Linked DNA regions of Homo sapiens: region 2 is linked to region 1. The links come from fine-mapping of genetic effects on gene expression. Tissue or cell type: whole blood. Region 1 holds a variant in brackets; the other region holds the start of a gene. All regions are shown on one strand. Distances are between the middles of the regions.

Evidence for each region. PIP is the estimated chance that this variant, and not a neighbour inherited with it, causes the effect.
Region 2: it holds the start of LRCH3, and the variant in region 1 is fine-mapped to the expression of LRCH3 in whole blood (INTERVAL, PIP above 0.99).

The regions. Positions count from the first base shown.
Region 1 is chr3:197,835,531-197,838,141 of GRCh38, forward strand. LRCH3 (leucine rich repeats and calponin homology domain containing 3) reads left to right here. Exons shown (of 21, transcript NM_001365715.1): 9 at 144-292. The region is part of intron 1 of LOC105374310 (a long non-coding RNA gene); the gene reads right to left. Among named protein-coding and RNA genes, the nearest start is that of LRCH3, 46 kb to the left of the region's middle. The variant T/C (reference allele first, on the strand shown) is at 1,538.
Region 2 is chr3:197,790,142-197,792,752 of GRCh38, forward strand. It overlaps LRCH3 (leucine rich repeats and calponin homology domain containing 3), which reads left to right and starts at 1,113. Exons shown (of 21, transcript NM_001365715.1): 1 at 1,113-1,399. The coding sequence starts at 1,138. RefSeq lists enhancers at 773-1,487, 1,101-1,300 and a silencer at 1,341-1,610.

The DNA.
Region 1 (2,611 bases):
TTAAAGTTTTTATCATCCCTCCCACTTTCAAAATAGAAAATCATGGGGAAAAGGAAATAAGTAAATGTCTTTTATTGGCTATCTAATTTGAATGTTTTTTTCTGGTGTGTGTGTGTGTGTGGGTGTGTGTGTGGTGTATACAGTGGAACATGATCTGGATCAGATTGACTACATAGACAGCTGCACCGCAGAGGAAGAGGAGGCCGAGGTGAGACAGCCCAAGGGACCAGACCCAGACAGCCTTAGTTCACAGTTTATGGCGTATATTGAACAGCGGCGAATCTCTCATGAGGTAGTACACAGATTGAAGCCTAAATATGTTGCTATCCCTTCATAAAAATAATTCATAATAGTATAAAGTTTTGTTATATCAGTGATTTGTTGACTGAAGCCTAATTGTTTTCATTATGTTCACTTCTGATTTCAGTCCTGAGTTTTTCAGATTTATTCAGAAAACTCAGACAGCAGCCTCAAGTAGGCTTTAGGTTTATTTTTCAAACAAGAAGAAAGATTTCAGAATTTTGCAGGAGGAATAAAAGAAGTCTAGGTACTGTTAAGGCCTTGGAAGAAAGTACAAAGAAAAATACAGTGATGCTTTTCATTGTTGTTTTTATTGCTTTTTTATTGTTACTAACTGATAAATCATAGTTTGGTCAGTAGTTAATTAACAGTTAAACCAAAAAGTTGACTTTTGTGGCAACATGCAGACTTAACCATAGAATTTTTATAATATGCTGAATTATATTGGAGCTTTTGTGCTAAGTCACACAGAATGTAAATTGTTTGCTATTAAAGTTCTTGGGTATCTCTTAAGTGGAGCATTGAATTGCCTTAGAAAACAAATGTGCATTCAGCCCACTACAGAATCTCTGCCAATTCCCCAAGGGTCTCAGATAGAATAGCATTCTTCAGTCTATCTTGTCAGCATAATAAAATGGCTTCACTTTAGTGGATGTGATGTTGATGTCTGGAGCTGGTTTCAGGCTCTGAGCAGTGATTATTTGAGAAACACTTGGGCCCTTTTAGAGAATGATGTATTATCCTTTTAGAAATAGAGAAGAATCTCTTTGGTCTGAGACAGCTAAAAGGAAAGAAAAAAAAAGAAATAGAGAATAATCATTTCAAGTGGGACATGTTGTAGAGTGATATTATCATTCTTTATTTAATGAAGCAGAGTCACTCTGTCGCCCAGGCTGGTGTGCCTTGGCACGATCTCGGCTTACTGCAGCCTCTGCCTCCCAGGTTCAAGTGATTGTCCTTCCTCAGCCTCCCGAGTAGCTGGGATTACAGGCACCTGCCACCATGCCCGGCTAATTTTTATATTTTTAGTAGAGACGGGGTTTCACCATGTTGGCCAGGCTGGTCTCAAACTCCTGACCTCGGGTGATCTGCCCGCCTCAGCCTCCCAAAGTGCTGGGATTACAGGTGTGAGCCACCGCACCCAGCCAGTATTATCATTCTTTTTTTTAAAAAAAGGGCCTTGGTTTTTCCTATCTGAATACTTTTGAACACCGTATTTTTTGTTGGTAAAGAGACA[T/C]ACTTGTATTTAAAGTTGGATAAAATTAGATAAGTCAAAGTCCTACAGCCCAGAGATGGCAGTGTACTAGGTGACTGATGAAACTACTTGTTGAGGCTGCTGGAGCAAGGGGCAACTAACTATTTTGCAATAAAATTAAAAATGACACATTATAATCCTTAAAGGAATTCATTTTCTTTTTTCCTGGTCTTTCTCTTTGATCATGTTATGGTTACTTAGGCTGTATAAATGGAGTATCTCTACTAAAAGTGAAAATGCCTATTATACTACTATAAAAAAATAGTATTTCTTTAATTCATTGTATTGTTTTGTAATAATATTTTTAAAATTCTGGCTGCCTGTTACGTATGGTAGTCTTTATGACTTCTGTGTCATAAAGCTTTCGTAAAATTTAGCATCTGTGAAAATGTGATGAGGCAGCATTATTTTAGATGGTTTCACAACCAGTGAAGTATCTTTTTATTTTCCTGAACACTATCTAAAAATGGAATGTTAAAAACTAACCTATGTGAGGTGTTAAACACTCTACTATTATTTAATTTTATTATAATACTTGTCACATACATAGACCATTCCTGTCTGAACATGGTATGATTTTTTTTTTAATTAAACCAATGTCACATTCATTTTGTCATGAAAATTTCGTGTGCCTCTTAGAATAATTTTAGATAATTGCAGTATCATAAAACTAGGATGGGGCTGGACATGGTGGCTCACACCTGTAATCCCAGCACTGTGGGAGGCCAAGGCAGGTGGATCACTTGAGGTCAGGAGTTTGAGACCAGACTGGCCAACATGAAGAAACGCTGTCTCTACTAAAAATATATATTAAAAAAAAAAAACTTAGCTGGGTGTCATGGCAGGTGCCTGTAATCCCAGCCACTCGGGAGGCTGAGGCACGAGAGTCACTTGAACCTGGGCAGCGGACATTGCAGTGAGCCGAGATTGTGCTACTGCACTCCAGCCTAGGTGACAGAGCAAGATTCTGTATCCAAAAAAAAAAAACTAGGGTGGTAAGCCACTGGTACAGCGTCCTAGGAGAGATTTGTGTTTATTGTTTAAAGTGGTGTAGCT
Region 2 (2,611 bases), 45 kb before region 1:
ATATAAGTGAGGTCTAATTGGTTTTAAATGAAGTATTTTCCACTCTTTCATTTCTTGAGTGGTTTCAATTTAGAGCATCTCTTCGGTTCTACCTTTAATTCCCACATTTAGATTACAGTGAGATCATTTTCTGTTCCTCAATTTTGGTTCCAGACCAACATTTTAGATTTTAATACTACTATAATCTTGCTTTATCCAACAATAAAATCTTGCCAAAAGTACAAGTACTATTGAAGATATTTGTTGTATTTTCATTAAGAAAAGCTATTTTATAAAAGGGATGGATGATATAAAATAATACGTTTTTAATGAGAATTTTGAGCCCAATTAGCACGTTTGTTTGTTTGTTTTCTCTCCAGCAACCATAGTAAGTCCACCAAACCTTGATTTAGATCATCTGGTAATACAATGAAGTTGGGAAACGGTTTAGGTCGTATCTCAGAGGGTCCGCTCCTCTCACCATCCAAGTTTCTGCAGCAGCAGTGTTAAGAAAGATTCCTTGCCGGGCGCGGTAGGTCACGCCTGTAATCCCAGCACTTTGGGAGGCAGAGGCGGGCGGATCACTTGAGGTCAGGAGATCGAGACCATCCTGGCCAACATGGTGAAACCCCGTCTCTACTAAAAATACAAAAATTAACCGGGTGTGGTGGTGCGTGCCTGTAGTCCCAGCTACTCGGGAGCCTGAGGCAGGAGAATAGCTTGAACCCAGGAAGCAGAGGTTGCAGTGAGCCGAGATCGCGCCACTGCACTCCAGCCTGGGCGACAGAGCGAGACTCTGTCTCAAAAAAAAAAAATTCTTAATTTAATGCTTAGTCGACTCCTCCACTACTGAGGGAGCAAGGCGGAGAAGTTTTGATGCGGAGCGTTGCCTGAAAGATGTTTTTGTAGAGGCATTTTAGAAATGCCCCTGGGAGGTTAGAGTAGGGGGCTGCTCTGGATTTGTGAGGTCCGTTTTAACTTCCCTTGAAAAGCGCATCATGTGGGCGGGGGCAAGCGCCTGGCTGCGCCGGGGGGCACCACGGTGCTGCCCATCACGGGAACCGTCCGGGGTCGGTCCGTGAGCCCCTTTCTCCGCCCACCCAGCGGTCCGGCCGCGCATGCGCTGAGCTGGCGGGCCCGAGTGTTGTCGGCTGGGAAATGGCGGCCGCGGGCTTGGTCGCTGTGGCAGCGGCTGCCGAGTACTCTGGCACGGTAGCGTCGGGAGGTAACCTCCCTGGTGTTCACTGCGGCCCAAGCTCCGGGGCAGGCCCTGGTTTTGGCCCGGGCTCGTGGAGCCGCTCTCTCGATCGAGCCCTGGAGGAGGCGGCGGTCACTGGGGTGCTGAGCCTGAGCGGCCGGAAACTGAGGGAGTTTCCCCGGGGAGCGGCCAACCACGACCTGACGGACACCACCCGGGCGGGTGAGCGGGGCGGGGGGCGTCTCTGCCCGTCGGAGACCCGGCGCCGGGAGCCGCCCCGGCCGGGGGAGGCGGATGCGGGGGAGTTACAGCAGCTCGTCCCGTAGGCGCCGGGTCCGGACCCGGGTAACGGGGAGAAGCCGACGGCGCCAGCCCTCCGGGCCTGCGCCAGACCCAGAGCCTGGGGAGAGGCGGCGGGCGGCGGCATCTCTCGGGGAAGGGGGCCGGAGTGATTGATGGATGATTTTTTAGGCTTTCTGAGGAAAATCAGTTTCTGCCACGGCGGAGGTAGACCCTTGCCCCGCCCCGGTTTCTGCAGGCCCTTTCGGATTTGGGGTGCCGAATGGACCTGCTAAGACGGGAACGTTAGCGCGAGCTCTTCACAGATCAGAGTAGCAGGGGTGTCTGGACGAGCTGCATTGTCAGGAAGGGTCGGTCTCAGCCCTGGAGTTTTTTCGAAAGAAGTGTTGGGGAGCGTGTGTTTAAAGTGGACCCGAAAGAAGTGTTGGGGTGTGTGTGTGTTTAAAGTGAACCCGAGAGAAGTGTTGGGGTGTGTGTGTGTTTAAAGTGAACCCCAAAGAAGTGCTGGGGTGTGTGTGAAGTGAACCCGAACGCTGGAACGTCTTTCTTCGCCTCCATCTAGTTGACTTACAAAATAAATACGCTTGTAAAAATAACTAGAGCCCACTTTCCGACTCCCATTAGTTTCCTCTTCCACTCCTCATGTCCTCCAAAAAAAAGTTGAAGCAAACTACTTAGAAAAGATAGTCTAACATATTTGTACTTGCTATTCCTTTTTAAAGCATTACTTCGTGTTATGTATGTTTTCGAACACAGGAAAGAGAATAAGAAAGTAGGTATTATTTGGCTTTCTTAGTTGTGGCGAACAGTGTCTGGTGCCCGAGTTGTTCATCATCATGTTTGCAGTGCCGTCATCACTGCTCACTGCAGCCTCGACCTCCCGGGCTCAGGTGATCCTCCCACCTCAGCCTCCTGAGTAGCTGGGACTACAGGCAGCCGCCACCACGCCCAGCTAATTTTATATATATATATATATATATATATATAAAATATACATATATATATAATATACATATAAATATTATATATAAAATATATATATATTTTTTCGAGACGGTATCTCGCTCTTGTCTCCCAGGCTGGAGTGGAATGACACAATCTCTGCTCATTGCAACCTCTGCCTCCCAGGCTCAG